Linked DNA regions of Homo sapiens: region 1 is linked to region 2. Evidence: fine-mapped expression QTL. Tissue or cell type: uterus. Region 2 holds a variant in brackets; the other region holds the start of a gene. All regions are shown on one strand. Distances are between the middles of the regions.

Evidence for each region. PIP is the estimated chance that this variant, and not a neighbour inherited with it, causes the effect.
Region 1: it holds the start of CHPT1, and the variant in region 2 is fine-mapped to the expression of CHPT1 in uterus (GTEx, PIP 0.97).

What each region holds. Positions count from the first base shown.
Region 1 is chr12:101,695,374-101,699,543 of GRCh38, reverse strand. It overlaps CHPT1 (choline phosphotransferase 1), which reads right to left and starts at 1,904. Exons shown (of 9, transcript NM_020244.3): 1 at 1,410-1,904. The coding sequence starts at 1,682. It also overlaps a transcript of MYBPC1 not described here. RefSeq lists silencers at 1,171-1,360, 1,621-1,960 and an enhancer at 2,181-2,430.
Region 2 is chr12:101,053,433-101,057,792 of GRCh38, reverse strand. The region is part of intron 14 of ANO4 (anoctamin 4); the gene reads right to left. Among named protein-coding and RNA genes, the nearest start is that of SLC5A8, 150 kb to the left of the region's middle. The variant C/T (reference allele first, on the strand shown) is at 2,410.

The DNA.
Region 1 (4,170 bases), 640 kb before region 2:
TGGTGGCAGGCACGTGTAGTCCCAGCTATTCAGGAGGCTGAGGCAAGGGAATCGCTTGAACCCAGGAGGCAGAGGTTGCAGTGAGCCGAGATCACCACATTGCCCTCCAGCCTGGGTGACAGAGCGAGACTCTGTCTCAAAAAAAAAAAAAAGAAAAGAAATACATAATAAGCATACCAATCCATTGACAAGATATTTTAAAATGTAGGCTCGATCAAATTTTTGTTTTTAAAGGATGCATGAGCCTGGCCAACATGGTGAAACCTTGTATCTACTAAAAACACAAAAGTGAGTCGGCCGTGGTGGCACGCGCCTGTAATCCCAGCTACTTGGAAGGCTGAGGCAGAAGAATCGCTTGAACCCTGAAGGCGGAGGTTGCAGTGAGCCGAGATCGAGCCACGGCACGGCACTCCAGCCTGGGTGACAGAGTAAACCCCTGTCTCAAAAACAACAACAAAATGGATGCATGCATGGAGGGCATGAAATATTTCCACTGTATTTCTGTTAATCCAACCTCAACCTCCATGAGTCCTCCACAAGGCCTACACTCAAATGATTATAAAGGGACTTCACTATTTGGAGCAGAGAATAGAAAGTAATGTCACAGAATGTGCAATGTAATATTTATCCCACGTAGTATAAACTATAGATGGGAGTGAACTCCACTCTGCCCCCTATCCCTCCACACTCAGCCCAAAGGGTGCTTCTGATGAACAGCTATCCAAAGCCTATATTTACTCCTTATTTTGTACAAAGGTCAAATGTAATTATTGCTAATAAAATGTTGGGGTTTTTTTAATCCCTAGGTTGTGATGACAAAAAAATTATTGCCTTGATAACATTCCAGTTTGTTTTTCTTGAAAAAGTCGATGAAGCAAAGAGGAAGTTACCTCTTAACTCATCTTTGATCAGTGCTACCGGTCATTTCAAGATCACTAGCTCAACCTTCCAGAAACGAACGGTTACGAAAGTATTCAAAGGGCGTCTCGGGCTTGGCACAAGTCCCTGTGCCAGGCAGGACGGAGATGGGGGTGTTCAGTCCCCAGTGTGCAAAGCACCCGACCGCGGGTCCGTCTCACAGGTTGGCGCCGCATGGGATAGCGGCTGGGCAGGCGCCCTCCGGCCCGTCCGCGGCCGTGGGGAGGATCTGCGCGGACATAGGACCTGGGGCAGTGACCTTAACAGCCCCTCCGCTGCCCAGGGGAGGCTTGGGATGGTCACGGGATTGGGATAGTGGCGTGACAGTCTCCAGGCGGCCCAGGGCGGACACCGCCCGGGGCAGTGGCCAGTCCGCCCCTCCGGGGCCCGGGAGAGGCTCAGCCGCGCGTGGGTCCGCCCTTCCCCCGGCGCCTCCAGCGACCCGCCCGCAGCGCATCTGGGGCCCGGCTCGGGCGATCGGCCAGCCCTACCTCTTCGGTGGCCGTGGGACAGTAGGAGATGAGCACGAGCGTGGTGACCACGTTGACGGCGAGCCCCAGCAGGGTGATGGAGTTGGGGGCCATCCAGAGCGGGATCCACTGGAGCAGCCAGGTCCAGTAGAGCTGCAGCGGCGGCTCGAGCAGCGAGACGCCCGCCGCGCTGTAGCGGTGCTCCTCCAGTCGCCGCAGCTGCGCCGCGCTCAGCGGCTCGCTCAGCGCCCTCAGCCAGCGCGGCGCGGACCCGGCCCCGGCGCCTGCCGCCATGGCCGCCTGAGGGCCCCGCCGCCGCCACCGAGCGCAGCCCGCGCCTGGCGCTGGGGGCAGGGAGAGGTGGAGGGAGAGGCTGGCGGCCGGGTCCTGCGACTGCCGGGCTGGACTCACCGGTCGGGCCCGCACGGCGGAGGTCGAGGTCAGGCCGGCCTGCCCGGCTGCCGGGGCCCCAGCCCCAGAAGCTGTGGGGCCGCGGCTGCGGCTCGCGGGTGGGGCGGGGCCTCGGGGAGGGGTCCGGCTGGGGGCGGGGCGGAGGGGGTCCTGCTAGGGGCGGGGAGGCGGGTGCCGCGCTCGCGGGTCACCCTCGGCGCCCGCCAACGGCAACTTGTTATCGGCGATCAAGGTCCTTGACTCCCCAGGGGCCGGCTGCACTGCGCCTGAGGTCTGATGTCTTAACCCACGGCGTCGGATTACGCCCTGAGGTCGTCTCCTCGCGGGCTGCACCACGACCGAGCCGGTTCCTCTCCTAGGGGTCGGAACACGACTCCGGTCGCCCAGTGTTAGCCACTGCAGGACCACGCTGCCCGCAGAGCCTGGGGGTTTTCGTGTGAGAACACAGTTTTGCAGGGCTCGGGTCACGGGGGTGACGGCCCCATCTGTCCTGCTTGGTAAAACACACAAGCACAATTCTCCCTTTCTGTACGGAGGAAGGCGGCCCTGCCATGTATTCGCTCTAGAGACCCATCACTGCGGATTCAGAGACCAAGGTTTTGAAACTGAAAATCAGGGCTTAGAAACACTAACAAGGAGACCGAATGGCTGAAACCCCGATACCTATTTTCTTCAGCGCATTTGATACCAACAAGGGTGAATATTTTTACACATACTCTTCCCTGGAATAAAGGGCAGGAGTGTCCTCCCCCTGCAAGGGGGAACAGGCTGGCTTGCCACACGCATTGGTAGGTCACCGGCCCCTTATCTCACAGTGCACTCACTTGGACAGGGGACATCTGTCATAAACACGTTCTGTTGCACAACCTGAGACAGGCCTGTCACTTGCTTTGCTCTTCACTTCATGGCTCTGATCTGCACGCACTTTCTAAGGCCTAGGACAAGCCAGAAATTGCTTCCAAGACACTTGTGTGGCGCAACCTCTATCGGCAAGTGCAGTTTGCCTCACGGGCTTCGTCAAACACTTGGCACAGGGGTCCACGAACTGCTGCCTGTGTGCCAGACCCAGCCCACCACCTGTTTTCCTACAGCCCTCCAGCTAAGTATGGTTTTGACATTTTTAAATGATTGGAAAAAATCAAAAGAATACAATTTTGTGTTGTGAAATTATATGAAATTCAAAGTTCAGTGCCACGAATAAAGCCATGTTTATTCCTTACCTATTGTTTGGCTGCCTTCATGCTACAAGGGCAGCAGAATTCAGTTGTGACAGACCGTATGGCTGGCAAAGCCTGGACTATGTCCTACTAGGCCCTTTAAGGAAAAAACTGGCAACCACTGCCTTAGAGCAATGAGGGTCTCTACAGACCAAGCGTATATGTCTTAGGAATATGGATCTCCTCATCTTTAGTGTGAAAAACGATGCTGACAAATGCAGGAAAGGAAATGGAATGATGGAGATCCACTTTTAACAATGCTGGTTTATGTGCAGTGAACTTGACAGTAACTACTTTTTAATTTACCGATGCCATGAACAGTCCAAGGAAAAAATCCTTTTCTAGATTAGCCGATTTCACTGTATTAAAGATAATTTTTAATGTACATCAAAAGACGTCATCAAGAGAATGAAAAGACAAGCCATAAACTGGGAAAAGGTATTTCCCTCAAAACCCACAATGAGTAGAACCCAGATTATGTAAAGAACTCCTAAAAATCAATCAGAATAAAAAATAATCAACTGGGCTATGTTCTGTTTCTATAGGAGAAGCCCTGGAACATGGTAATGTTCCAGGGTGCACTTATGAACATGAGTGAATTGCACAAGCATATGTTGACTGAAAAAAAAAAAGAAGCAGGTGTATTAGTCAGCTTGGATTGTCATAACAAAATACCACAGACTGAATAGCTTAGACAACAGGAATTTATTTCTCTCTCACATAAAAGAAGTACAGAATTGGCACTCCAAGACTGGTACGATGTTTCCATGGTCATCAGGAACTCAGGCTTTTCTGTCTCTCTGCTCCAATATCCTCTCTGACTTGTATCTATAAGGCCATCTCATGATTCAGAATGGCTGGTGAAGCTCCAGTCATCTTATTTGTGTTTCAAGCAGCAGGAAGGAGTAAGAGGACAGGAAAAACAAAAAGTAGATATCACTGGCTGGTGAGCAAACTGGGGTGCCTCTCCAAAACTCCCAAACAACACTTCTCCATACAGTAGTCTCCCTTTGTCCCTGGTTTTACTTTTCTGCAGTTTTAGATACCCACAGTCAACCACAGTCCAAAAATATTAAATAGAAAATTCCAGAAATAAAGTGTGAGTTTTAAATTGCATGCCATTCTGAGTAGCGTGATGAAATCTCACCCAGTCC
Region 2 (4,360 bases):
ATTTTTGCAATCTATCCATCTGACAAAGAGCTAATATCCAGAATCTACAAGCAACTTAAACAACTTTACAGGAAAATACAAACAACCCCATAAAAAGTGGGCAAAGGATATGAACAGAAACTTCTCAAAAGAAGACATTTACACAGGCAACAAACATATGAAAAAAAGCTCATCATCACTGGTCATTAGAGAAATGCAAATCAAAACCACAATGAGATACCATCTCATGCCAGTTAGAATGGCAATCACTAAAAAGTCAGGAAACAACAGATGCTGGAGAGGATGTGGAGAAATAGGAACGCTTTTACACTAATTACACTTTTGGTGGGAGTGTAAATTAGTTCAATCATTGTGGAAACCAATGTGGTGACTCCTCAAGGATCTAGAACCAGAAATACCATTTGACCCAGCAATCCCATTACTGAGTATACACCCAAAGGATTATAAATCATTCTACTATAAAGACACATGCACACGTATATTTATTGTGGCACTATTCACAATAGCAAAGACTTCGAACCAACCCAAATGCCCATCAATGATAGACTGAATAAAGAAAATGTGGCACATACACAACATGGAATACTATGCAGCCATAAAAAAGAATGAGTTCATGTCCTTTTCAGGGACATGGATGAAGCTGGAAACCATCATTCTCAGCAAACTAACATAGGAAGAGAAAACCAAACACTGCATGTTCTCACTCCTAAGTGGGAGTTGAACAATGAGAACACATGGACACAGGGCAGGGACCATCACACACTGGGGCCTGTTGGGGGATAGGGGGATCGGGGAGGGAAAGCATTAGGAGAAATACCTAATGTAGATGACGATTTGAAGGGTGCAGCAAACCACGATGGCACATGTATACCTATGTAAGAAACCTGCACGTTCCACACATGTATCCCAGAACTTGAAGTATAAAAAAATAAAAGAAAGAAAGAAACAGGATTGTCTTAGTTAATACAGGAAAAGCTTTTGGCAAAATTCTATACCCATTCATGATTTTTAAAACCCTCAGTTCCTAATAATAGAAGGAATGTCCTTCAACTTGATAACAGACATATATGAAAACCTGTGGTTTCTATCATACTTAATGTTGAAAGACTAAACACATTCCCCTAAGACTGGGCATAAGGCAAGGATGTCTAGTACATAACTTGTATCCAGCATTATTCTGGAGGTCCTAACCAGTATAAGGCAAGAAAAAGAAATAAAACTCATATAGATTAGAAAGAAAGAAAACTTATTTATTTTATAAATTTCTTAATCATCTATGTTGAAAATATTAAGGAATCTATAAAAAAGCTAGAAGCACTAATAACTGAGTTTAGTAAGTCACAAGATATATGGTCAATATACAAAAGTTAATTGTATTTCTATGTAGTAGCAATGAATAACTGGCAATTGAAATTACAGAAAAATACTATTTGTAAAAAACTCAAAAAATCCAATATATAGGCATAAATTTAACAAAATATCTGGAAGCCTTGTACATTGAAAATAATAAGACATTGCTTAGAGAAATTACAGAATATGTAAATAAACAAAAAGCTAAATGACACTCAATCTTTCCAAACTGACATTGATTCAACTTAATCCCAATCAAAATATCAACACTTTTTTTGAAGAAATTTAAGTGCTGATTCTACAATTTTTTTGGAAATGCAAAGAACCTAAAACAGCAAAACAATTTTTGAAAAGAAAAATATGATTTTAACAGTTATTATGCCATAATAATCAAGACAGTGGATTATTGCCATGTGTACACATACACATCAAACATAATAAAAATTCTGAAAACAGACCCATACATATATGGCCCATTGATTTCAACCAAAATGTACCAAGAAAATTCAAAAAGGAAAAGAACGGCGTTTTTGACAAATGGTACTAGGAAAACTGGATATCTACATGGAAAGAAATAAATCTGCCCCTTACGTTATGCCATATACAAAAACCAACTTGAAATAAGTCATAAACCTAAACATATGAGCTAAAACGATAAGCTTTTTAGAAGACAATATAGACGAAAATCTTAGAAACTTTGAGTTTGGCAAAGATTTCATAAATAAAACAAAAAATGAGTGCAGAAGAAAATTTAAATTAGACTATATAAAAAGAAAAAACTCTTGGTTTTCAAAAGGCACCATTAAAAAATAAAAATGCAAGACTCAGACAGGGAAAAAAATTTGCAAACACCTGTAAGATGAAGCATTTCTACCTAGAATATATAAAAGTACTCTTTTAACTTAAAAATAAGACAGACAACCCAATAACAAATGGACAAATGATCTGAGCAAACACTTCACCAAGTAAGATGTGCAGATTGCAAATAAGCTCATGAAAAGATGTTCAACATCGCTACTCATTAGGGAAATGCAAATTAAAACTGCAATGGGATAATAC[C/T]ATATACCCACTAAAATGACTAAAATTATAAAGACTGACAATTCCAAGTGCTTGTGAGAATGTGGAACACCTGGAATTCTCATATCATGCTGATATTGACTACAAAACGATATGGCCACTTTGGGAAACAATTTCTTACTAAGTTAGGCATTCACTTATCACATGATCCAGCAATGCCACTTTTAATTATTCATCCAAGATGAATGGCTACAAAGGCTTTTATGAAAATTTACAAAAACAAAAAACTAGAAGAGCCAATAGTTTCTAGGTTTATTTATAGTAGTTAAAAACCATACTGAACCCAAATATTCATTAACTGGTAAGTAGACGAACAAATTATGACATAGCCAGGCTCTGGAATACTACTCTGTACTAAAAAGAAACCAGCTACTGACACAGGCAACAGCATAAATGAATCTCAACAGCATTAACTGAAGTGAAAGTAGCCAGACACAAAATGCTATATATTGAATAATTTAATCTGCATGAAATTCTAGAACAGCTGAAACTACAGTGGTAAAAAGCAGGTTTCAGGTTGCCAAGGGACTGACTGCAGAGGCATGAGGAAACTTTTGAGAGGATAAAAATGTTCTCTTAGGCCGGGCACGGTGGCTCCCACACTTTGGGAGGCCAAGGCGGGCGGATCACAAGGTCAGAAGATCCAGACCATTCTGGCTAACACAGTGAAACCCCGTCTCTACTAAAAATACAAAAAAATTAGCTGGGCGTGGTGGCGGGCGCCTGTAATCCCAGCTACTCGAGAGGCTGACGCAGGAGAATGGCGTGAAGCCGGGAGGCGGAGCTTGCAATGAGCCGAGATTGTGCCACTGCACTCCAGCCTGGGGGACAGAGCGAGACTCCGTCTCAAAAAAAAGAAAAAAAGTTCTCTTATATATCATCATTATGGTGATGCTTCCATGACTATATATATTTGACCTAATTTGTTGAATTGTTCACTTAAAGTTGCTGGATTTTATTGCACATAAATTATACTTAAAGTTGAAAAAAATCTTCCCACAATCCCACCACATAAAGCAAACCACCATTAATATTATGGCATCATTTCTTTCTGTTTTCATTTACATTTAATATACTCAAAATCGTGTTTTACTTGTATACTTTATACCCTACTTTAAAAAAATTTAAATACAAGCTTTGTATTATCAACATGCTTTGAAAGAGCAATTTATAATAGCTGCTTATAATTTACCAAACCGTTCTTCTATTGTTGGACATTTACGTTGTTCACAAATTTTGCATATTATAAATAACTAAAGCTAGGAAAACATTTTACACGTGTGGTTTTTATTCTGGAAATTGGATCTTTTCTGAAGCCAAGTTCTGCGTAATATTTTGACTGAGTACTAGAATGCCTTCTAAGGGGCCTGCCTGCCACCAGTTGGCCTCCACTTTCACCTCTCCCTGCACTGTTGCCAGAGTTATTTCCCAAATACAATTGATGATGTCCCTTCCCGGATTATAACTCCAGTTGGCTTTCTGTTGCTTACAGCGTGAAGCCATGTTCTGTTGTAGCTCAAGTGGTCTGTGATAAGTAGCTCTCAGCCTTCAACAGGTACTCTGCTATGGGTTGAACTGTGTCCCCTCAAAAAAGGTCCCAGTACCTCACAATGTGACCTTATTTGGAAGTAGGGTCAGTGCACATGTAATTAGTTAAGATGGGGTCATAACTGGAGTAGGCTGGGCCCTTAATCCAATATGACCACCGTCTTGAGAAGAAGATAGCCATGTGAAGACACAGAGACACGGGGCAAATGCCAGGTGAAGACAGAGGCAGAGATAGGAGTGATGCATCTACAAACCAAGGAAGGCCAAGGACCATCAGCCATCACCAGAATCCAGGAGACTGGCATGGAACAGATCCTTCCCTCACAGCCCTCAGAATCCCACTGACACCTTGATTTTGGACTTTGAGCCTCCAGAACTGTTATGC